Linked DNA regions of Homo sapiens: regions 2 and 3 are each linked to region 1. The links come from fine-mapping of genetic effects on plasma protein levels. Region 1 holds a variant in brackets. A gene starts in each other region. All regions are shown on their reverse strands. Region 1 holds the start of LPA (lipoprotein(a)). Region 2 holds the start of NPY (neuropeptide Y). Region 3 holds the start of AGRP (agouti related neuropeptide).

What was found. PIP is the chance, under the fine-mapping model, that this variant and not a neighbour inherited with it causes the effect. The UK Biobank Pharma Proteomics Project read protein levels with antibody pairs (Olink). The fine-mapping took linkage between variants from a reference panel, not from the people measured, so its PIPs are less certain.
Region 2: it holds the start of NPY, and the variant in region 1 is fine-mapped to the plasma level of the NPY protein (UK Biobank, PIP above 0.99).
Region 3: it holds the start of AGRP, and the variant in region 1 is fine-mapped to the plasma level of the AGRP protein (UK Biobank, PIP above 0.99).

Annotation. Positions count from the first base shown.
Region 1 is chr6:160,663,504-160,671,683 of GRCh38, reverse strand. LPA (lipoprotein(a)) reads left to right here and starts at 7,409. Exons shown (of 39, transcript NM_005577.4): 1 at 7,409-7,518. The coding sequence starts at 7,470. The variant G/A (reference allele first, on the strand shown) is at 3,409.
Region 2 is chr7:24,278,320-24,286,499 of GRCh38, reverse strand. NPY (neuropeptide Y) reads right to left here and starts at 2,310. Exons shown (of 4, transcript NM_000905.4): 1 at 2,225-2,310; 2 at 1,072-1,259. The coding sequence starts at 1,259. The region is part of intron 2 of LOC107986777 (a long non-coding RNA gene); the gene reads left to right. RefSeq lists an enhancer at 7,176-8,180.
Region 3 is chr16:67,480,229-67,488,408 of GRCh38, reverse strand. AGRP (agouti related neuropeptide) reads left to right here and starts at 4,862. Exons shown (of 4, transcript NM_001138.2): 1 at 4,862-4,892; 2 at 5,008-5,140; 3 at 5,299-5,384; 4 at 5,591-5,838. The coding sequence starts at 5,011. The coding sequence ends at 5,773. ATP6V0D1 (ATPase H+ transporting V0 subunit d1) reads left to right here and starts at 7,252. Exons shown (of 8, transcript NM_004691.5): 1 at 7,252-7,452. The coding sequence starts at 7,323. It overlaps ATP6V0D1-DT (ATP6V0D1 divergent transcript), which reads right to left and starts at 7,015. Exons shown (of 4, transcript NR_184227.1): 1 at 6,890-7,015; 2 at 4,081-4,299. RefSeq lists a silencer at 6,972-7,141 and enhancers at 7,252-7,301, 7,462-7,701.

The sequences.
Region 1 (8,180 bases):
TCTCAGCTCTCAGCTCTGTCAGATCCGTTAGGTTCTTTTTTTATACCAGCAATTTAATCTTTCAGCCTCTATATTATTTTATTGTGATTTTTAATTTCCTTGAATTGGATTTTGCCATTGTGCTAAATCTTGATGATCTTCATTTGTATCCGTAGTCTGAATTATATTTCTGTCATTTGAGTTAGCTCAGTCTTGTTAAGAACCCTTGTTGGAAAACTGGTGCAGTTGTTTGGAGGACATATGACCTTCTGGCCATTTGATTTATTGGAGTTCTTACGTTGGTTCTTTCTCATGTCTCTGTGTGGGTGTTTCTTTAACTGCAGTGTAGATTGAGTACAGCCAATAGACTTCTTCTTTGGAGGTTTTCACAGGGCCAAGGCCTTGTACAGGGTCTTTATTTGTAGCTGACTTCTTGTCTTTGGTTTCATAGTGGGGCATGTTAGCAAAATAGTTTTGCTGTTGAAGTTTTGGGGTGTGATCCATTTTTTATTTTAATGATTGTGTATTTCCTTTATACCTAAAACAAGCAGAAAACCAGTAAAGGTCTTTGAGTCTCTGAATTCATAACTCCAGCATTCATATTGCTTCCTCAGGTAAGTGGGGTTTTCACCCAGCCCTTAAGGGTGTTAGATTATTTTTTATGTGAAATTAGCCAGATTGTATTTCTAAACATGATGTAAAACAATAATGACAAAAGTTATAATAAACTAGCCTTCTTACCAAATCCACATGTCTAATGTGTGTGGGAGGGTGTTAGGCAGGGGACCTGCAGCTAAGGGAGAGGCAGACAGGCCCCATGGCCCCAAATCTAGGATAGTATTTGGTATTGGTTGATGGGTGAGAGAAAGAGAGGGAACATCTGTGCAGGATGTGGTATCAGCACCTGGACTACATCTTAGGGATTCCTTCTTCATTTTTCAGTATGCCCTGACAATAATTATATCTATCAGACTTACCCCCTTGACCACTGGAACACTAAGACTGTTTTGGGATCTCTGCCTGACTTTCTCAGAGGTGCTGGTGAGGACATTATGAGTCTGGAACCTAGAAAAGCGTTCTGACTCTGCTGACTTTCTCAGAGGTGCTGGTGAGGACATTATGAGTCTGGAGCCCTAGAAAAGCGTTCTGACTCTGCCACTAGCCAGACAGACCTGGACTAGGCACGTTAACTCTTTGTATGACTTGACTCCAACCCCTCATTTGTAAAACCAGCATTTTCAAGTGGTGTTTTCCACATCAGCCTTTTGCATAAGCTGTCATTTGAAGAAAGGTTTTTGTTTGTTTGTTTTTTGTTTAACAAAAAGGTTAAAAACCACTGGTCTAGATAATTGCAAAGTTTGCTTTCCTTTTTCTGTGCTTTTTCTACTATTTTTAAAATGTCATCCTCCTTGGTTTCTTGATCCCCCTTTCTGCACTCCTGAGTCTGGGAACACTGAGGCCAACTAAAAGGAAACTTGGCAAAAGAGGAACACCTTTGGGTGTGCCAGGCTGCTCCCAGTGTTTTGCACTTATAAAAATTTAAATGCTGCAAACCTCTAAGACTTAGATATTATTGTTCCTATTTTACAAGTGAGGAACCTGAGGCTCAGAGAAGGTGCAGGATGGCACAGGGAGACCTGAATTGGAACCCTGGTTCCCACTTACTGGCTGTCGGGACTTAGAAAAGTCATGAACTCTCATTGATTGTTTTCTTATATGAAATGGGGGCTGCAGGGTTGTCGGGGGAGAAACAATAAGAATGTGCATCAAGTGTCGAGCACGTGCTACGCACTCCATCATGGCAGCTCCTACTAATATACAGAATAGAGTTGTATCTAACATGACTCTTTCTTGCAAGTGACAGAAAATCCAACTTAAGATGGATTAAGCAAAAAAGGGGAATTCTTGTTGAGCTGAAAAGTCTTTAGGCTCACATGATGGCCCCAGGGCCCAGGCCCTGTCCAGCCATGCAGTAGGCATCATCCTTGGGCACAAAGGTGAGATTCTTGTGGTGGCAGATGCTGTGGCAGCTCTTGCTTTGCCAGGAAAGACTGAGGAAGGCCACTGTCCCCATTAAGTGAACAATAGTTGGCCAGGTCTGAGAGGTTGAACTTGGGTCACAGGCCTGTCCCTGAACCCATCACTGATTGGCTCCAACCTGCATCAGCTATTACATGCTAGAGGTGGAGGCAGGACCCCACTCATACCCAGAAGGGCAAAGGGTGGATCCCTCAACAGGATTATGGGATGTAGGGTGATAGACTGCTGGGCAGCCAGAAAGCAAACAGATCCTCTCCAATACCTCAACTGATGAAAGCACCAAGCTAAAATCATAAGGATCTGGGTGTGAATTCTGGCTCTACCATCTTCCATGTGACATTGGGCAGTTATTTAATCTCTTTTAGCCTTGGCTTTCTTACCTGTACTAACATATAAGGTGATTGTGATGAGCATCATCATCGTCAACATCATCATCACCATCCACATTGCCACCACCACTCCCATTATCATCTTCATCAACATCATCACCACCGCCACCATCACCATTATCATTACCACCACCGCTATCACTATTATCATCACCCTCAACATCATCACCATCATCACTATCATCACCACCACCATCATCGTTACTACCACTACCACCACCATCATCACCACAGCCACCACCACCATCACCATCATTACTACTCAGCACCACCATCATCATTCCACCACCATCACCATCATTCCACCATCACCATTATCATTACCACCACCACTGTCACTATTATCATCACCCTCAACATCATCACCACCACCATCATCATTACTACCACCACCACCACCATCACCATCATCATCATTCTACCACCATCACCATTATCATCACCATCACCATCACCACCGCTATCATCATGATAATCATTATCATTACCACCACCATTAGCATTATCATTACCACCACCATCACTATCACTATCACCATCACCACGACCACTACCACCATCACCAACACCATCATTACTACCCACCACCACCATCATCATCATTCCACCACCATCACAATTATTACCACCACCACCATCACCACCACCACCACCATCACTATCATCATCAGTAGACATCATATAACCAGTTTGTAGCTGGCCCAGAGCCTACTTGCTGTTTCTTCTGCCCCACAACCATCCACACATTTCTAACCACCATCCCCCACTAGGCTTCTGCCTCGCCTGGTCTCACCTGCAGGTCCACTGAGAAAATGATTCTCAGAACACTAACTAGACCATGAGGTGCCACAAAACATAACTCAGGCCTGTTCATCAATTTTCTACATGTCAATAATGACATCAGGTCAATTGGCGTTCTCAGCCTCTGAGAGGGAGGTCAAAGTTTTCCTGCTCTCCCCTTCATGTTTCCAGGTGTTCCCTGACTTGGATCAAATGCAGA[G/A]TTTGGAGGTGTTGAGGCCAAGGGGATTTTCCAGGTCAGTCGTCATCCACAATCAATGGACTGATCCTGCCGCTGGACTTACCCTGCTGCCCTCTCCCCAAGGCCCCATCAGGGAGGGCTTCAATCCTCTTGTCACCTGTGGCCTACCTGCCCTCAGAGATGACATCTCTATGTCGGCCACTGGATGGCAGCACCTACTCGCAGACCACATCAACTTTCCTGGCAACTTGCGGTAGGTTTTCACCATTATCAGGATGTTTGCCTTGCTCAAATAGCAGATTCTAGAGAACGGTGCTCCCTCACACAACTATGTAGTCCAGGTGATGCACCCTCTGCCCGATGCTTGGTAGTCAGAAACTTCCATCATGCAGCTCTGCCCAGATTGAGCTGAGCTGGCCTCTGGAGTGAGGTGCTGGGACAAACATCTTCCATGCTGCTCATGTCAACTCCAGATGCAGTCAGGTTTCTGAACCAAAGTCAATGATCTAAGTGCAGTCAAAGGCTCTGGGGGAAGAAAGAGAGAGTGCCTCATCTCTTGCCTGTGCCATGCTCGCAAAGCAAGGATTTTTGCAAAATTCTAATGAAAGCTGGGCTTGCAAAATTAGAAAACTGGATTATTTGTGAGAACACTGAAACATCCCTGGGTGTGTCCATCTGGAAAAACAGCATTTCCTCTGGCAATTTTGCAACCGTTCTATTTGAATTTGGCAAAGAAAATAAAGCAGTTTTTCACAAAAGAATAAACACAACCAGGAGAATCTTCACTCTCCCAAATTGTCAAAGAAGTATAAATTAGAAAATGAATCAGGACAATTTCAACCTGTTAGATTAGCTAATATTTAAAAATTGAACACTCATACAAGTGTGGTGAAGTGATTGTTTTCTAGTGACATTTTACACTGTCATAACCTTCTAGAAAATAAATTGGCAGTGTTATTGGGAGACAGAAATATGTCTATATAATTTATGGGAACTTAGGCTCAGAAAATATTAAGGAATAAGAATGAACTTTATGAACAAAGATGTGGAGGGTTGGAAGCAAGAGGGGGGCCAACGCGCACGGGGAGGAAGCATTTGGGCAGTGACTCCGCAGACCCAGGCTCAGGTTGAACTAGACAACCTCCTTACACCTCAGTTTCCTTAACTGTAGAGCAGGAGTGATGGAACTGCCTGTTTCATAGGACTGTTGTGAGGATGAAGTGAGATACACCACATTATAAGCTTGTGCCTGGAAAGGATAATGCTTAGTAAATGATGACTATTCTTTTTTATTGCAATAAAATGTACACAGCGTAAGAGTTACTATTTTAACCATTTTTGCAGGGTACCACCAAGTGGCATTTAGTACATTCACAGTGGTGTGCAACCATCATCATATTTCCAGAATATTTTCCTCATCCCCAAAGGAAACCTCATGCTCATTAATCAGTAGCTCTCCTTTAAAATATTAGTTATGAAGATCATAGCACTATACAAAACTCATTATGTAATGTTGAGTGAAAAAATCAGGGTGTGAAATTTTGTGATATGATGTAATTAGTGAAAGAAGCATACAAAAAGTCTGAAAATATAAAAACAATAGCAATTGCATTTCTCAGACTCTACATTTAAACATTATTCTTTATGGTTTTAAAAGCAAAGAAAAAGGTAAAGAAACAACAACCAACCGCAAAGCACCATGACAAAGCTCAGATTGTTAAATCCAGGTTTTTGGAACATAGACTCTTATATGACGTTTACACTCTCCAGGGTTCAGAGAGTCTGGCAGCATTGGGAGCTGCCTTGTGTTCTACAGCCTCACGGACAGACAGGAGGTCCATCACCACTGCTCTGTTCTTCTGGAGTTTCCTTGTGAACATGTTGTGGACGTAGTTACCATTTCTTTCATCTTTTTAAACACAGGTACCTTTGGGGCTGGCTTTCTCAAGGAAGCCCAGCTCCCTGTGATTGAGAATGAAGTGTGCAATCGCTATGAGTTTCTGAATGGAAGAGTCAAATCCACTGAGCTCTGTGCTGGGCATTTGGCTGGAGGCATTGACAGTTGCAAGGTAAGAAAAGATCAAGAGACCAAAGTTAGTCTTGTGCTCTCCTGTCTCAGTCTCAGTCCCTTAGACTTGAGTCCCAAAGTAGCGAATTCAAGTAGGATTTAATCAATGGAAGACCCCAGTCTAAGTGTTGCTCAGAAACTCCCTAGATCTGTCCCAAATGTATATTCAGATCATCCAAGGGGACTTCTTGGGGCTTGAGTTCCAGATCAGCAGCAAGGGAGCCATAAGTGCCATAACTACCTCAGACCACTCACCCTCCTGGGGTGTCCCGGTGGCCAGGGACTAAAGTGGTGATTTTTCTGGTAGGGAAGGAGGTAGAGGGTACAGGACAGAGACTAACTGCACACAATATCTGAGACTGGAGCTCAGATATTGCTGATGATCAGAGTTGGCGTGTCTCCCCAATTGATTTACAACTGGGGCTTGGATACTGTTTTAAACGGGAGGAGCCTCCTAACCATCTTGACACAACCACTGACGTGACTACACTAGAGATAGACTCTTTCCACTTAATTCTACCACTCTTGCTTTACTTCATGAGAACGAAAATGTAAGATTGCACCATGAATTCATTTGCGGAAAGATTGATACTATGCTTTTATTTTATTTTATTTTATTTTATTTTATTTTATTTTATTTTATTGAGACTCTCACCCCGGTTGAAGTGCACTGACGTGATTTTGGCTCACTGCAACTTCCACCTCCTGGGTTCAAGTGAATACTCCAGCCTCCCTAGTAGCTGGGATTACAGGTGCCCACCACCACGCCTGGCTAATTTTTGTATTTTTAGTAGAGATGGGGTTTCACCACATTGGCCTGGCTGGTCTCAAACTCCTGACCTTGTGATCCACCTGTCTTGGCCTCCCAAAGTGCTGGGATTACAGAGTTGAGCCACCGCACTCGACCCTATGTTTTATTTTTAAAAATATTTATTTATTTATTTAAGCCACAACTACTAGAATAGGAAGGATTGATATTTTATTAATTTTATTTGGTATTTATTATTTTTTTTTCTTTCCTGAGACATTCTTGCTCTGTCACCCAGGCTGGAGTGCAGTGGCACATTCTTGGCTCACTGCAACCTCCATCTCCTGTGTTCAAGCAATTCTAGTGCCTCAGCCTACTTAGTAGCTGGGATGACTGGCATGTGCCTCCACACCCAGCTAATTTTTGTATTTTTTGTAGAGACAGGGTTTTGGCATGTTGCCCAGGCTTGTCTCAAACTCCTGGCCTCAGGTGATCCATCTGCCGTGGCCTCCCAAAATGCTGGGATTATAGGCATGAGCCACCACCCCCTCCTGGAAGGATTGATATCTTATAACATAATTTATAATTACAGAAAACATGTGAGTTCACTAGGAATAAATAAATTTTGAAGATAATAAAAGATTTTCACTTATGTTGTCATTTCGGCACAGTTTGGTATAGGATGTGGAGATGTTAACATTTATACCTAGCTTGCTCGTAAACTAAGACCTGAAAGGGTTGTGTCTATCAGCTGCACCCCTGGGTAGCGACACAACCTCGGGAAGGCCTCAGCCCCCTCCTCGTACAGCACTGCCTGTTGGAAAGCTTGAGGGAGGCTATGGATGTGCAGCACTTGGCAGAGGGTCTGGTCATGGAAGTTACCAGCAAATATGAGCTACTTTTATGATTTTATTTTATCCAAAAGAAAGAGAATGAAAGAAGAGGGGAGGAAACAAGACTAATCAGGAAAGATGAAGGTCTAGGGGTGAGGGAAGGAGTAAGGAGACATAAAGGCAATGTGGAGCAGCTGAGGGGGGAAATGGCTTTCACCACTTCCCAGCATCTATTGACATTGCACTCTCAAATATTTTATAAGACTCTATATTCAAGGTAATGTTTGAACCCTGCTGAGCCAGTGGCATGGGTCTCTGAGAGAATCATTAACTTAATTTGACTATCTGGTTTGTGGGTGCGTTTACTCTCATGTAAGTCAACAATGTCCTGGGATTGGGACACACTTTCTGGGCACTGCTGGCCAGTCCCAAAATGGAACATAAGGAAGTGGTTCTTCTACTTCTTTTATTTCTGAAATCAGGTAAGACATAGTTTTTTTAAATTATAAGAATTATTTTTTCTCCCACAATGTAGTAAAAATACATATGCCATGGCTTTATGTGCAATTCATTTAATTTTTGATTCATGAAATTCCCAGTTCAAAATCTTGTATATGATTGAAAAATTCTTAAAAAAATAAGTTTAATTTCCCCGTGAAGACTGTCACGGTGCTGGAATGAATGGGCAGAAAAAATAATGGTTGATTTTTCTAATCTAAAAGAGTGTGCCTACATGATGGCCAGTCTGGCTGAAAAATAAATAGCCATTGTAGCTAACTATGCAAAGGATGGCTAAGCTCTTCGCTTGGTTCTCAGTTTCATTAATTTATATCATCTCTGTTCAGGTGCCATGCTCCCCTCACTAGCAAGTTGAAACAATGAAATAACTCTTTGAATATGTTTGGTTCCTTGACCTGTTCATGGAGTGGGACTCAGCATTTCTCTCTTTGTTATGGCCTGAGTAAGGCTTTCCATCGGTATACATTTGCTTCTTATCCCTGGAGAAATTATACACATCCATTTGCCAGATGATATACGCATATAATGATTCAACAAATACTCAGGGTATTTGTTGAGTGGGTTAGGTCCCCACATTTTTATACATACATACACACATACACACCGTGTGTGATTGTGAATGTAA
Region 2 (8,180 bases), not on the chromosome of region 1:
AAATAAATAAATATATAAACCCCACAATACTTTAAACATATAATTTAAACATGTTAACTAACATTAATGCTTCTAAAGGGCTTATCCTTTAGATACGGTCAAATGACTAAAATCATTTAATCTCAGTAATTAAAATAAGATATTAAATGATTTAGAACTAAGATCAACCAATTTTGAAAACAAAATTTAAATCCTATGTAATTTGTAAAATAGTTTGGATTTGATTTTTCCCTTAATTGTCAATGTTGAGAGTGAAAATATGGCATTTCATTTTGACTTTCGGAATGTTCAGAATAAAGTTTACAATTTCTCAGATTCCATGTAATCCCTGAATTCATCCTAAAGTTACTGGACCAACGTAAGTTTCTTCTTAATGAAATACCAAGTGGGCACTTTCTTTTCAGAATTCACCAGCTATAAAATAGGGAGACCTCTGCATTTTAGATAAACTGTTTTCAGGCTAAATCTCTAATTATTGGGACTAGAATTTTCAAATATGGGAGTGAGACTGCAAAAAAAACACAGTGAAGAAGAAAAGAAAATAGCTCTATTTGTCTTTTTCTAAATACTGTCATTCAATTAGCCCTGGGCAGGCCGGAAAGTCTGACAATGTCTGTGGCAACCCTGCAGTTTACTCCTTGGTTTGGTTTTCTTTGGTGGTCGTTCTGTTTCTCCTAGACACCTTGCTAGCGTTTCCCCCTACAGCATTTCTCTGGCGCATTCTTGCCCCTTTCACTGGGTACTTTCGAGATTTCTGGACCGGGCCCCACTGCCGTAAGAACCACAACAAACCATAAGAGGTGAGTGAGAGGAGATTGCCAGCCTACCAGCCTGGGGAACCTGAATCTGGGGATCACGACTCTGTGACTGTAGTTGCACAAAATGGAAGGTACCCATTTTGTGTAGAGTGTGCCCTGTACAAACATTTACCTAGAGCTGACTAAGTGCCTGATACTGTCCTGCCCTGGGATAGAGCGAAGGAAAAGAAACAATCCCTTTCCCTAACATCCCCAGGATCTCCTGGTGTGCAGGCACTGGCGCTCCCGGAATCGGTCCCGCGGTCCCACCCACCTCTGCCTGGTGATGAGGTTGATGTAGTGTCGCAGCGCCGAGTAGTATCTGGCCATGTCCTCCGCTGGTGCGTCCTCGCCCGGGTTGTCCGGCTTGGAGGGGTACGCCTCGGCCAGCGCACCCAGGCACACGAGCAGGGACAGGGCGAGGGTCAGTCCGGACAGCCCCAGTCGCTTGTTACCTAGCATCTGCAGGCACAGAAGGCTCAACGGACGGGCTTGGGGATTCAGAGCACCCACGCGCAGCACCTCCCTCCTCTGCCCCCCGCGCTCCTCCTCCTGCTACCACACGCGACCCCCAATCCGCTCTCGTCCCAGTCCCGCAGAGAGAACCCAGGAGTGGCTAGCACCACCTTGCGGGCTCCGGGCGCCGTCCGGTCGGGACCTGCCCCTCTGCTCCACCTGAAAACTTCGCGCAACTTCGTTCGAAGTCTCAGGGACCAAGAAGCGCGCGGCGAGAGTGCAAGGTGGGGGCCCCGCCAGTTTAGCATTCAAAACCGAATTGGAAGTTCTTCCTGCTGGGTCACTTTTCTCCCTTCTTGCCCAAACTCTTGTCTGGGAAGAAAAGTTTCTTCTCTGTTACTTCTGGTCTGCCTAGCTTCAGGGGATCAACGCTGACAGCAGAGATCACCTCGGGGTGACGACTGCGGTGGGGAAGGGGAAAGAGAATTGCTCCCTGGGCCAGAATTGCTCCAAAGAGATTTGGAGCCCAAGAATCCAGGGAGGTGGCAGGGCGCGGGGCTCTAGAGCTCCAGGGATTCCTCACTCGATGGCGCTGCCGGGGAAACCTTCCTACCGCGCACCGCTTCCTGGGCCTCAAGGCGGCGACCCGCAGGGAGACCGCCAGCTGCCTTGGGATAGCGGTCCCGGGTTCTCCCTCCATATCTGCTAAAAGGTAACTCAGAAGAACCGCCCAGCGGGAAGGGCCCGGGAGAAGGGCCGTGGACAATCAGAGGGGAGCAGAGGAACAAGTGGAATTTAGCCGCCAAGAGGGCTGGTCCGCGTCGGGGCGCGGAGCCGGCATAGTCCGCTGGGGAGTGGAGCGCGATCATCCCAGGGCCCCAGGGCTCCACAGAGCGGGAGGCTGCGTCTCTAGCAAGTTCGCGGGCGCCCCGTTCGCTCCCACCCCTAGACAGACGGGTCGTAGCACTCACGGTGGCTGGCGCGCGGGCGTGGCTGGGCGGCAAGTACTATGCTGTCGGGCGAGCGTCTCCGAGGGGTGAGAGCCAGCGGATGGGGTGCAGAGAGCGGGTCGCGACAGGGCTTTTATGGAGCTTCCTCGCCGCGGCAGGAGGGGCCTCGGGCAGTCACGCTTGGGTGACTCCCACCCGCCACTTCCCGCCCCTGAGTGGCGGGGGGAGGGGGCTGGAACCGCAGCCGCACGAGTGTCGACTTAGGGAGCCACCCACACCCCAACCCTCCCGCCCCAGGCACTGCCTGAAGAAGCGGGGCCTGGGACCGCGTGAGCGAGGCAGCGCACTCCGAGCGCGCTGGACAACACCAAAGCCCAAGTATCTGCCCTCGGGCAGTGCCCGATCCCTGCTTTCCTTCTTTCCTTCTTTCCTTCACGCCCCGTCTAGTCCTGCCAGAGATAGGAGCAGCCCAGACGATTCTTGTCTCCTGCCAACAGGACTACCAACCCACTGGGTGCCGGAGTAGGAAGCACCTGAATCCTCTTTGTGGTGGGGCATCTCCACGACTAGCGCGGCATCCTCGCCGGGCACAACTGCGCGCTGTTGGAGTGAGGCAACTGGGCGCACAGATTTTTCCTGTACTTAGAACAAGTCGGAGGCAGCTGCCGGAAGTCTCCGGCTAGAGGGTCCCAAAGCTGCGCTCCCCACCCCACCCCCGCCCGTGGTTTCAGGGGCTTCTGCCCCTTCTCTCAGCTGGTTTTTCTAGATCAGCCTTCCTCAAGTACTCGCTCAGACGCAGCGAGCCAGGCTCGGTCGAGACATGAGTGTGGCGACTCAAAATTCCCCAGAGGGGGAACACGGTAAACCTATTCCCCCAGTTTGCTGAAAAAGAGCCACGCTTCCAGCTTCTAGAGACTCTTTTAAGCTCAATTTTAAAAATATATATTTTTTCTTTTTTGGTCCAAAGTGACGGTGGTTAAATGAACAACAGTTTCTGTCTTATTTACTAACCCTTGTATAGTCCTATGTACGTTCAATTAACGTTGAGAATGTGGGTTCTGATTAAGATGAAACATGTTAAAAACGATGAACATTAATTTGCTCATCGCGTTAAACCTGTTGAATGAATATGCAAGATACAGAAACTATTATTACAGGATCAAGATTTTATGCAGTGGACTGAGATCTGAAAGTTCCGTGAATGAATGCTCCTGTATCTTTCTAAATAAAATGGCATTTTATTTCTAAATGAAATATAAGTCTGAATCTTTCTAAATAAAAAGGCATGTTGGGAAATTAAAGCATTAAGTTCCATGTTATTTTAATGCTAAAAGGACAAGTGATTCTGTTAAACTGACACTTAGTTTTTGTGCTGTTCCAACAGCATTGAATTAAATATCAAAAACCGTGAAGCAAACAATCCTTTGCATGTATGTGTTTGTGTGTTTGTGGGATCAAACTATAATTTTGGAGACCAACATCCCTTTCACTTGGCAACTGCTTCTCTTTCTGTATTACACAAACATATGCTGAGGACACAAAAATCAAGGCTCTCAGAGTTGCTCGGGGGTGCTTACAAGACACAGCCTTCGGTAAAAGTGCAAAACATCTTCTAACTTAGAGCTCTTCCTAGATAAAGGGAAAGTTACAGTCCACTTTTCAATAAAATAATCTTATTTTAGAGTGTATCACAGATTCATATCAATTAAAATCTGAACTTAAAATGTATCACTGAATTTGGGAAAAATTACTTCTAGGAAGGCCCACACCACTATTGAGAGAAGAACACTGTGGAGGCTTGATTAATTTAGCTTAAGATAATGTCATTGATTCTCAAGAATAAGAACTTATTCTGAGGGTTAAGGATTCAGAGAATAAAAAATAGGGGGTGATATGCCCTACATGTGCTTACATCCTTATCTCCTTTCTCTCCAGTCCAAGCCACATCCCCTGGCCAAAATACAAACAAAACCAACTGTTGGCAACTCAACCCTGCATCTTCTCCTAGCTGCTGAGCCATTTCTCTCCTTTGTTTCAAAGTCAAGTTGTTTATTTCTAACAGCTTTGTTAAGATAACATTGAGATACTGTTGAGCTTGTTGAGATTCAAAAGGAGGTGAATCAGTGGAGACTAGAGAAGGTAATGACCGAGAGAAGTCAAATAACCGGTAAAGGTCCATGTGGTTTGCAATTAGGAGGTCTTACTGATAGCAGGTTCATAGCTTGATTCAGATAGAACCTGGACCACATGAAACCCAGTGGTTTCATGACTAAACCTAAGGTAAAGAAGCAGAAGGAATGAATAGATACTGCTGAATATATACAAAGCTACAAATGTGTAAAATATTCAATTGGATATATTCTTACACATATGCATGTGTGTTATATGCTCAGGAAGCCATCACTGAAACCAAGAAAATGAAGATTATACATCACTTCCCCAAATTTCCACATGTACCTTTGTAATTCCTTCCTTTTGCCTCTTCCTCACCCCCTCCTCCATTGATCTGCTATCACTAGAGATTTGTTTGCGTTTTCTAGAATTGCACATAAATATAGTTCCACGGTAGGTACTCTTTGTCTGACTTCTTTCACTTAGCATCATTATTTTTGAATCCACTCACATTGTTAAATGTAGCAATAGTTTATTCTTTTTTATTGCTGGGCAGTATTTCATTATATGATATACTTCAAAATTTTTAATCAATTCTACTGCTCATGAATTTTTGGTTATTTTCACTTGAAACTTTTACGAATAAAGCTGCCTTGACATTCATATGCAAGTCTTTGTATGGACATAAAGCCTTTAATTCTCTTGGAAAATACTTAAAACCAGAATGGCTGAGTCAGACGGTGAGTGTATATTGGCCCACAGTTTGTTGGTGATCTGTTTTTGCTTCTGTTTTGCTCATTTTTTCCTTCATATTTTATTTTGGATAGTCTCTATTGCTATGTCTGTGAGTTCACTAATGTTTTCTTCTGTAATATCTGATTACTGCCAATCCTATCCAGTGTATTTTGCACCTTATACCTGGTAGCTTTCATCTCTAGAGTTTCAACTTGAATCTTTTTTTTAAGTTACAGGACAATATAAAGCAATGAATCTTTTTTATATCTTCCGTATCTAAACGTGTCCACTCTTCTCTCTAGCTTCTTGAATATACATTAATAATAACTTTTGTACTACTAACATCTGTGTGATTTTTGTATACTTTGGGTTGATTGATTTTTCTCCACATTATGGCTTATATTTTTCTTCTTCTTTGTGTGCCTGATAATTTTTGATAGGATGTCAGATATTGTGGATTTTACCTTGTTATTTGTTTTTTTGTCTTTCTATGACTGTTCTTGAGCTTGTTCTGAGACAATTAAAAATTTAAAGACAGTTTTATCCATTCAGGTCTTGGATGTGAGTTTTGTTAGGTGGGACCAGAGCTGGTTTTAGACTAGGTTTACTCTTTCCACACTTTGAGGCAAAATTCCTTCTTTTTACTTTAACTGGTAACTGACTTCCCCCCAACACGCACACCTCAAATTGCACAGCTCTCCCCTCTGGCTGTTCAGATAGACACTATTCCCAGCCCTTGGTCAGCATCAGACACAGTTTACCCTTATCTTTTTGTGTAGTTCTTTTCCTGGTCTCAGGTGGTTTGTTCTTGTGTATAATCTGATCAATAATCAACTAAATCCTCAAGGGGGACACCCTTCAGACTTTCAGAGTATTCTTTCTTTTACCTGATAATCTTCCTGTGGACACTAGCTGCCCTGGCTCCCTACACTTCCAGCCCCAGCTCCTTGGCCAGGATGATTCAATTCCTTCCTTCTGCACTGTAGCCTGGATGACTCCTTCAGGCAGTGTATTCTCATGCTGCTATGAAGAAATATCCAAGACTGGGTAATTTATAAAGGAAAGAGGTTTAATTGACTCACAGTTCTGTATGGCTGGAGAGCCCTCAGGAAACTTACAATTATGGTGGAAGGGGAAGCAAACACGTCCTTCTTCATATTGCAGCTGGAGAGAGAAGTGGCGAGCAAAGGGGAAAAAACCTTTTATAAAACCATCAGATCTTGTGAGAATTCACTCACTATCATGAGAACAGCAGCATGTAGGTAACTGCCCCCATGATTCAATTATCTCACACCAGGTCCCTCCCACAACACGTGGGGATTAAGGAAACTACAATTCAAGATGGGATTTGGGTGAGGACACAGCCAAACCATATCAGGCAGTGATCTGGGACCATTGTATGGCTCTTGTCATTTGTTTTCTATCTCTAAGATATTACTGTCCTTTACTGATGTCCAATGTTTTAAGTGTTGTTTCATCTATTTTTGTCTAGTGTTTTAGTTGTTTCAGCAGGGAGGGTAAATCCAGTTCCTGTTTCTTCATCTTGGCCAGAAGAGCAAGTCTTGTAGCAAGGCTTCTTTAAAAAGATGTTTCTATTCATTGTCTCTGGTTATTCACCATAGGTGTAGTCATGAAACCACTGTGATCTAGGTTCTATCTGAATCAAGTTATAAACCTGCTATCAGTAAGACCTTCTAATTGCAAACCACATGGATCTTTATCAGATATTTGACATCTCTTAACCATTACTTTCTCTTGTCTCTCTGATTCACCTCCTTTTTCTCTGAATGTACCACCATCTCCTTTGCTGACTCACCCTTCTGTACCCATAGTCTTAGCCTTAACCTTTCTACTGCACACATAAGCTCATCTACTCCTACAGCTTATGATCCTGAAATCTCTCCCTTCAGCTCAGATTTCATACCTGGAAACCAGGGCGATACGTCTAGCTCAGAAAAACTCCATCAAGGGCCTCAAATTTAGATTATCAAAGTGGAGCTTCCACTAACATGAATGTCTAATTAAATATCATATGAAGTGTAAAATGTTTTCAAAATTCTTCCATTGAACTATAAGGCCCCACATATTTTGGACCCTACATACCTCCTAGGCTCATCTAACATAATTTTTTTCTTCACTCCCTGTATTTCTGTCCATTGTCCTCCTTTCTGCTCCTTAAATATGCCAATCAGCTTTCCTATTTGGGCCTTCATTGTGCTGTGTCTGCTCTCTGAGATATTCTCTCTCCCTACTCTTTACCTGGCCAACACCTACACAACCTTCTGGGTTTACCTTGAAATATTTTCTGAGTGTTCTTTAGGTCCGTTCCAAGAGGCCAAATAGGAACAGCTCTGGTCTGCACCTCCCAGCTGATCGACGCAGAAGATGGGTGATTTCTGCATTTCCAACTGAGGTACCTGGTTCATCTCACTGGGACTGGGCGGACAAAGAGTGCAGCCCACGGAGGGCAAGTCAAAGCAGGGGTGGGCATCGCCTCACCCAGGAAGTGCAAGGAGTCAGGGGATTTCCCTTTCCTAGCCAAGGGAAGCCATGACTGACTGTACCGGGAAAATTGGGACACTGCCACCTAAATACTGTGCTGTTCCCACGGTTTTAGCAAACAGCACACCAGGAAATTATATCCCACACATGGCTCAGCAGGTCCCATGCCCACAGAGCTTTGCTCACTGCTAGCACAGCAGTCTGATATCGAACTACAAGGTGGCAAGCCTGGCTGGGGGAGGGGCATCTGCCATTGCTGAGGCTTGAGTAGGTAAACAAAGCTGCCAGGAAGTTCGAACTGAGCGGAGCCCACCACAGCCCAATGAAGCCCGCCTGCCTCTGTAGACTCCACCTCTGGGGGCAGGGCATAGCTGAACAAAAGGCAGCAGAAAGTTCTGCAGACTTAAACGTACCTGTCTGATAGCTCAGGAGAGAGCAGTGGTTCTCCCAGCATGGTTTTTGAGCTCTGAGAATGGACAGACTGCCTCCTCAAGGGGGTCCCTGACCCCTGTGTAGCCTAACTTGGAGATACCTCCCAGTAGGGACCAACTGACAACTCATACAGCCGGGTGCCCCTCTGAGACGAAGCTTCCAGAGGAAGGATCAGGCAGCAATATTTGCTGTTCTG
Region 3 (8,180 bases), not on the chromosome of region 1:
ATTTTTAGTGGAGACGAGGTTTTGCCATATTGGCCAGGCTGGTCTCGAACTCCTGATCTCAGGTGATCTGCCCACTTTGGCCTCCCAAAGTGCTGGGATTACAGGTGTGAGCCACTGCACTTGGCAAAATACACAAGTCTTAAATGTGCAGCTTGATGAAATTTTACATACTTATATACCTGCGTGACCACCACTGAGATCAAGATACAAAACCTTTCCAACACCTCACATGTTTTCCTCATTTCCCCCCTCAGTCAATAATTTCCCACCCTCCCAGAGTTAACCGCTGTTGTGTTTTATCACCATTTATTATAATTTTGCTTGGGTCTGAATGTCATAGGGCTGGATTCATTCCATCCTCACTCTTCTGCAGCATGCTTCTTTCATTCAACCTTATGTCTGTGCAATTCATTCATGTTGCAGTGTGTAGCAGTAGTTTATTCTCTTGTCATTGCTGTATAGTTGTCAATTATATAAACATACTTTTGTTTGTTTGTTTGAGATAGGGTCTCACTCTGTCACCCATGCTGGAGTGCAGTGGTGCAATCTTGGTTCACTGCAACCTCTGCCTCCTGGATTCAAGTGATCCTCCCACCTCAGCCTCTCGAGAAGCTGGGACTACAGGCTTGCGCCACCATGTCTAGCTAATTTTTGTAATTTTTGAAGAGACAGGGTTTTGTCATGTTGCTCAGGCTGGTCTGGAACTCCTGAGCTCAAGTGATCCACTCGTCTCGGCCTTCCAAAGTGCCAGGATTACAGGTGTGAGCCACTGTGCCTGGCCCAATTATATCACTATAATGTTATTATCCATTTTGCTGTTGATGGATATTTGGATTGTTTCCAGTTTTCTTTCTTTTTTAAAATTTTTTATTTTTTTAAGACAAGGTCTCATGTGCATAAGCTGGAATGCAGTAGTGTGATCATGGCTCACTACAGCTTTAACCTCCTGGGATCAAGCGATCCTCCCCACCTCAGCCTCTGGAGTCACTGGGACCACTGATGTGCACCACTGTGTCTGGCTATTTTTAAATTTTTTTGTAGAGATTGGGTCTCTGTATGTTACCCAGGCTGGTCTCAAACTCCTGGGCTCAAGACAGTCTCCCACCTCGGCTTCCCAAAGTGGTGGGATTACAGGCATGAGCCACGGCACCAACTTTCTCTATCTTTTTGTTTTATTCCAACCCTCAAAGGATTGGATGATTCTGGAAACACCCTCACAGGCACACCTAGAAATAATATTTAACCAGATATCTGGGCATTCCTGGCCCAGTCAAGTTGACACACAAAATTAACAATCACAGATCCTCTCTAGCTCAGGGCTCAATACACCAGCCCGAGAGAACCCCCATCCATCTTCTCCTCTCCCTGAATGACTGAGGAGACCGTGCCTCTCCAGGCAACCTCTGCCTTAGGAAATCCTACAGATGATTCACAGGAAACACATGGCTGTGCTCTCTGGGGCAGGGGCAATGGGCTGGGTAGGGGTTTCAAAATCAACCCTGATTGACAGAGCCACGGGTGCTTGCAGTTTTTCCCTGCACCCCCCACCCTCTCCCCTGGACAAGGTGGGAACAGGGCCCTTGAAGGGGAGTACACTGCAGGAGGAAAAAGAAGAGAAGGGAGAGGGTTTGAGCACCCCTCTCTGTCCTCATGTGGTCTCTGGAACGAGCATGCACACTCTCCCCTTTCTCCTCCCTGCACAGAGTCCCTGTGTTCCGGGCCCACACCCTCACTTAGGAGGCTCTGCCTCCCCCAGGGTTTCCCAAATCCTCCTCCCAGAACATGCCACATATTTCTGAAGGTCCTTTTGCCAACAAGCATTGTCCTGGGAATATCAGGCTGGTTCCTTACCGTAAAATTACCCACATAGTGAAACTTTTTTTTTTTTGAGATGGAGTCTCACTCTGTTACCAGGCTGGAGTGTTACCAGGCTGGAGTGCAGTGGCACGATCTCAGCTAACTGCAACCTCCGCCTCCTGGGTCCCAGTTCAAGTAAATCTCCTGCCTCAGCCTCCCAAGTATCTAGGATCATAGGTGCGTGCCACCATGCCCAGCTAATTTTTGTATTTTTAGTAGAGATGGGGCTTCACCATGTTGGCCAGGCTGGTCTTGAACTCCTGACCTCATGATCTGCCCACCTTGGCCTCCCAAAATGCTGGGATTACAGGCGTGAGCCACTGCATCCGGCTGTGAAACTTTTTTTTTTTTTTTTGAGAGAGTCTCGCTCAGTCACCCAGGCTGGAGTGCAGTGGCGCGATCTCGGCTCACCGCAAGCTCTGCCTCCTGGGTTCACACCATTCTCCTGCCTCAGCCTCCCAAGTAGCTGTGATTACAGGTGCCCGCTATGACGCCCGGCTAAATTTTTTTTTTTTTTGTATTTTTAGTAGAGATGGGGTTTTGCTGTGCTAGGCAGGATAGTCTCCATCTCCTGACCTTGTGATCTGCCCACCTCGGCCTCCCAAAGTGCTGGGATTACAGGCGTGAGCCACCGCACCTGGCCTTTTTTTTTTTTTTTTTTAATGGGGACTGGGTTTCGCCATGTTGCCCAGGCTGGCCTCGAATTCCTAGGCTCAAGTGATCTGCCTGCCTCAGCCTCCCAAAGTGCTGGGATTATAGGCGTGAGCCACCACCACCATGGCTCACTGCAGCCTCAATCTCCTGGGCCGAAGCTATCCTCCTCCCTGTCTCCTGAGTAGCTGGGACTACAGGTGTGCATCACCACATTCAGCTAATTAAATTTTTTTTTTTTGGTAGAGACAGAGTCTCACTATGTTGCCACTCCTGGGCTCAAGAAGGTGTGAATCACTACACCTGGCCGTTTTTTTTTTTTTGTTTAGTTTTGTTTTTGTTTTTTGAGACGGCAACTTGCTTTGTCGCCCAGGCTGGAGTGCAGTAGCGCGATCACAGCTCATTGCATTTTGGCGCTGGGTTTTCTTGATATCTCCCCCACTGGACCTGACCGGGGCATGGGCTGCCCTGTGAGTGCCTCAGCCCTCGTCCATCACTGCCCATGGGGCTGATACACCTGTGTGCACACACTCAGGTGAAGACAGCTGCTGCCCGTAGGTGAGGTAAGACACTGAGCACCTGTGTGGGAGGAGATCTTCCACTCCCACTCTGTCCACACCAGACCATGAAGAGCTCTCCATAGCATGGGTGCTGACCAGGCCCAGCCTGGGTGACAGAGTGAGACCCTGACTCAAAGAAAAAGACATAATGAGGTGTGATTTTAATTTCTTGGATGTCCCAGTATATATAAATGTTGGGAGTATGGATTGCTTCATTTCATTTTAAATAGCATTTTTTTTTTAAGATGGAGTCTCACTCTGTCACCCAGGTTGGAGTGCAGTGGTGCGATCTCTGCTCACTGCAGTCTCTGCCTCCCGTGTTACAAGTGATTCTCCTGCCTCAGCCTCCCGGGTAGGTGGGATTACAGGCATGTGCCACCATGCCTGAATAACTTTTGTATTTTTAGTAGAGATAGGGTTTCACCATATTGGCCAAGCTGGTTTGAACTCCTGACCTCCAGTGATCCGCCCACCTTGGCCTCCCAAAATGCTGGGATTACAGGCGTGAGCCACCGTGCCTGGCCACCCTTTATCTTCTTTTCTTTTTGAGACAGGATCTTGCTCTGTCGCTCAGCCTGGAGTGTGGTGATGCAGTCATAGCTCACTGCACTCTTGAATCCCTGTGCTCAAGCCATCCTCCCACCTCAGCCTCTACTACAGGCATGCACCACTACACCCAGCTATTTTTTTATTTTTTGTAGCAACGGGGTCTCACCATGATACCCAGGCTGGTCTTAAACCCCTGGCCTTGTGATCCTCCCACCTTGGCCTCTCAAAATGCTGGAATTACAGGTGTGAGCCACCATACCTGGCCCCCTTCATCTTTTTTCCACTGCCTTGTGCCAACCCAGTTTGTGCACTGGGGCCTTGCGATCCTCTCAAAGCTGATTCAGCCTGCATTCCTTTCCCAGATGGACACGTGTGTGATAAACAGCTCTGCAGTGGGGTGAGGGAAGGCAGGGGCAGCAGGGTCCTGTATGTCCTGCCATCTCCACAAAAGGGCAGTCCTTACCCCAGCCTTGTGCTGATGAGACCAGGCATAGACAGTCCTGACGACACAGGGCGGAAGGGAGCAGCCATTAGTGCTAATGAGGCAGGCGGCCTGAAAGCTTTGTACTCTGCAGTGGCTCGCCCACCCAGGGAACAGTTCGTTCTGTTTCCTTGGCTTCCAGGAACCCTAGGCAGAAAGGGGTTTGGGGACAGGAGCAGGAGTGGGCGGTCTTGGAGAAACCTGGAGGGAGAAAGGGAGGGGAGGACCAGAAATGTAGTCAGGAGGGCCTAGGATTGGTTAGGTGGGCTTTTCCTTCCCCTTTCCCTCCAAAGAAACCCAGGTTCTGGTTCTGCACCTACCCCTGCCCAACAGTGGCCATTGGCCCATCACCCGCTCCAATGTCCTTGACCCGAATTCTTGGAAGCACAGGAAACAACATGCCACATAGGGGTTGAGTAAGCATCTCTGGGGCCACAAATTAAATTAAGCTTTCAGGGCCGCCTGCCTTGTTATTGCTAATGGTTCTAGCCCTGCTCAGCTCCTAGGTCCCTGTCCTGTGGAAATTTGTGGACCCTGGGCACCCTCTCTTGCTCCCAAATTTTAATCGGCTCCTGGAAACCTCACCCCAAATTGGAGATAGGCACTCCTCTTGTAGAACAAAAGGCTCAGGTTCAGGGAGTGAGGGCCTGAACTGTGCCCCCACCCTCCAGGAAGGGTCCTTCACGGCCTGGCTGCAGGGATCAGTCACGTGTGGCCCTTCATTAGGCCCTGCCATATAAGCCAAGGGCACGGGGTGGCCGGGAACTCTCTAGGCAAGAATCCCGGAGGCAGAGGTGAGTCCTCAGGTTGGGCAGGGACTCCTCCTCTCTGTGGGGTCTCTATCTGGGCACCTAGAGGGGACTCCAAGGATAAGGAGGGACTAAGTGGTACATCTTCCTGCTGAGCCAGGCCATGCTGACCGCAGCGGTGCTGAGCTGTGCCCTGCTGCTGGCACTGCCTGCCACGCGAGGAGCCCAGATGGGCTTGGCCCCCATGGAGGGCATCAGAAGGCCTGACCAGGCCCTGCTCCCAGAGCTCCCAGGTCAGTGTGAGCAAGGGTGGGACTGGGCGGGGCCTGAATACCCTCTGGCCACAAATAGTCTCCCCTGGCATAAACCCTCTTTCTCCCTTCCCAAACCCTCCCCTGGGAGGTGGGTGCTTTGTGCATGGGGGTTCCTGCCCTCACATCCTCTGCCCCAGGCCTGGGCCTGCGGGCCCCACTGAAGAAGACAACTGCAGAACAGGCAGAAGAGGATCTGTTGCAGGAGGCTCAGGCCTTGGCAGAGGTAACTGCTCAGGGAAAAGGGTAAGGTGGTGGCCCTTGGGAGGGGGCATTGGGTATTAGCTCCTCTCCCCAGCTCCAAACTCCCTCACCAGCGACGACACTACCGACCACCCCTTCCCATGCTCCACTGCCATCCTGCACAGGTTGGGACAGGTAAGATCCCTGGATCTGTCTTTAGAGGCCTGTGCTGGTTCCCCACCCCTGCAGGTACTAGACCTGCAGGACCGCGAGCCCCGCTCCTCACGTCGCTGCGTAAGGCTGCATGAGTCCTGCCTGGGACAGCAGGTGCCTTGCTGTGACCCATGTGCCACGTGCTACTGCCGCTTCTTCAATGCCTTCTGCTACTGCCGCAAGCTGGGTACTGCCATGAATCCCTGCAGCCGCACCTAGCTGGCCAACGTCAGGGTCGGGGCTAGGGTAGGGGCAAGGAAACTCGAATAAAGGATGGGACCAACCCCAAGGCTGTGGTTATTTCAAACGTGGCCGTCAAAGGAGGGAGGGTTCATGGAGGGGGTGGGAGTGTCACCAAGCCAAGAAACCACACATACTCTTATCCCAGGGCCTGGGCTACCCTATCATAGGAGGCACATACACGGGCGCTTTTAGGGGTCCTGGTGCCCCTGGGAAAAATAGAGAAGAGCCGCACTCCAGCTTTCGAAAATCTTGTACAGCAAGTGCGGGGAACGCAGGACGCAGCGTGGCACAGGGGCTATCACTCCTGGCTAACAAATAAGCCTTAGGCTCCAGGGCTTGCTGCTACTTCCACGCAAAGCCTGCCCCTCATCCTGTTACCAGAGGGAAGGCCAGGAGTGTGCGTTGTTCAGGTCCTTAGCGTTTCGAACAAAGAATTGAACAAAACCCAGAAAGTAACAAACGAATGACACACAGGAAGGAAGCAGACAGCTGGGATTTGTTAAAGCGAGAAAGCACTACGCAGGGTGGGAGTGGGCCTGAGCAAGAGGCTGAAGGGGCTCAGTTACAAAGTTTTCCGGGTTTTAAGTACTCCTTTTGCGGTCCCTGTCCGTTACCCCTTATCTGGATGAAGGGTTTGGTCCATGGCTAATTAATCCATTTATGCCTGAGGTTGCAATCTTTTTGAATTTTTGCAATCAGACCTTGGCCATGACCTTGAGCAGTAGGATATAAATAACTCCCATATGCTTAGCGTTCCAATAATGGAACACAAGGCATAAATGGGGCTAAGGTGAATTGGCGCCCTATGCAGATGAAGGGATGGCCCGTGCTTGGCCCGCAGCCAATCCAAGGCACTCTCCCTTTCAACTGAGACGTGGTGGAAGGGGGAGGGTTGTGGGGACAGTGGCCTTTGATCCTTTGTTACTTGGACATGGGGAGATGGGGTTTTTCTTTTTGGTTTAGCTTTAGTAAGCTCGCCTTAGTTGGCCTCCGGTTCCCTGCCCCCAGACCTTGGTGTTTTCCCTTGATTCAGCTTCAGAATTCAGCACGTATTGGCCTCAAGTTCCCCGCCTCCAGACCCTATTCTCCTACCTCAATCGGACCTCAGTTTCCCTCTGGGGAGGAGGCTGGCCCAGCAGTCTGGAAACTTTCCAAGCTTGAGAAGGGCTCGCTCCCTTCTTTACCCCGCCCGCCCTGCAGCGTCAAGTGCAGCAAACCGGGGAAAGCTAGAGAAGGCCCAGTCAAATCCCTGCGGCCACAGGCGCCACCAAGCGGCCGGCCTCAAACTTCCTCTTTTTAGCGCGCAGGCGCCGCAGGGCCAGCCCACGCCTGCACCGCGCTTCCGCGCAGCCACCCGGAAGCCGGGCACCGCTCAGAGCCACGCCCCCTTATGGTCACGTGAGGCGCTTGCGCGTCACCTGACGCACTTGACAGCCCGCTGAGGACGCAGCGTCAGCTGACCTGGGGAGTCGCGATTCGTGCCGGCCGGTCCTGGTTCTCCGGTCCCGCCGCTCCCGCAGCAGCCATGTCGTTCTTCCCGGAGCTTTACTTTAACGTGGACAATGGCTACTTGGAGGGACTGGTGCGCGGCCTGAAGGCCGGGGTGCTCAGCCAGGCCGACTACCTCAACCTGGTGCAGTGCGAGACGCTAGAGGGTGAGCCGGGGCCGCGAAAGGCGGGGATAGAGGCTGTCCGGGGCCTGAGGGTTCAGAGGTGTAGGCCGGGAAGCCGGAAGGGGGGGTCTTGAAGGGCCTGAGAGGCCTCTCTGGGAATCCTGGGGCTGATAGCGGACGCGCAGGAGCGGGATCTACCTCTAGCTGTGGCTCGGCGCGGGCCCAAACTCAAACAAGGCTTTAAGAACCGCAGTTGTTCGCCTCTGCTTGGGCCACCTTTTCTCTCGCTGTGCTCACCCTGCAGTTTGGGAGGAGGGGGTGTTTCGGGGGTAGTTGGTCGGTGCGAGGTGTGGCCATACAAACCTCTTTACCCTGACGTAGCCCGAGAGCTGTCGCGTAGCAACCCTTAGGGAAGCTAAGCGGAAAAGTCCCCCACCTCTTCCCCCTCCCCCCGCCAAGACACTAAGGTCTTTGGGATCATCGTGTCTTCGCGTTGGCCTGCGGGGTGAGCCTTCCTGGGGAATTGCTGAGCCAGTTTATCGAGGGTTTTCTCCCAACTCTGAACTGCTGGCTGGGCAGTATCTCCTGAAGGCAATGTTTGGGAGAACAAGGGTGGCCCTTGCAGGTCTGGAAGTTCATATACAAGTATTTGGCCAATTAATCCCACCCCCTCAGCGAGGGGGATGCCTGTTGGGACAGGGTTTCTGAGCACAAGAGTAATGAGAAACCGAGTTCCCCTTTCTTCTCAGCACACAGCTCCAGAGTGGCGT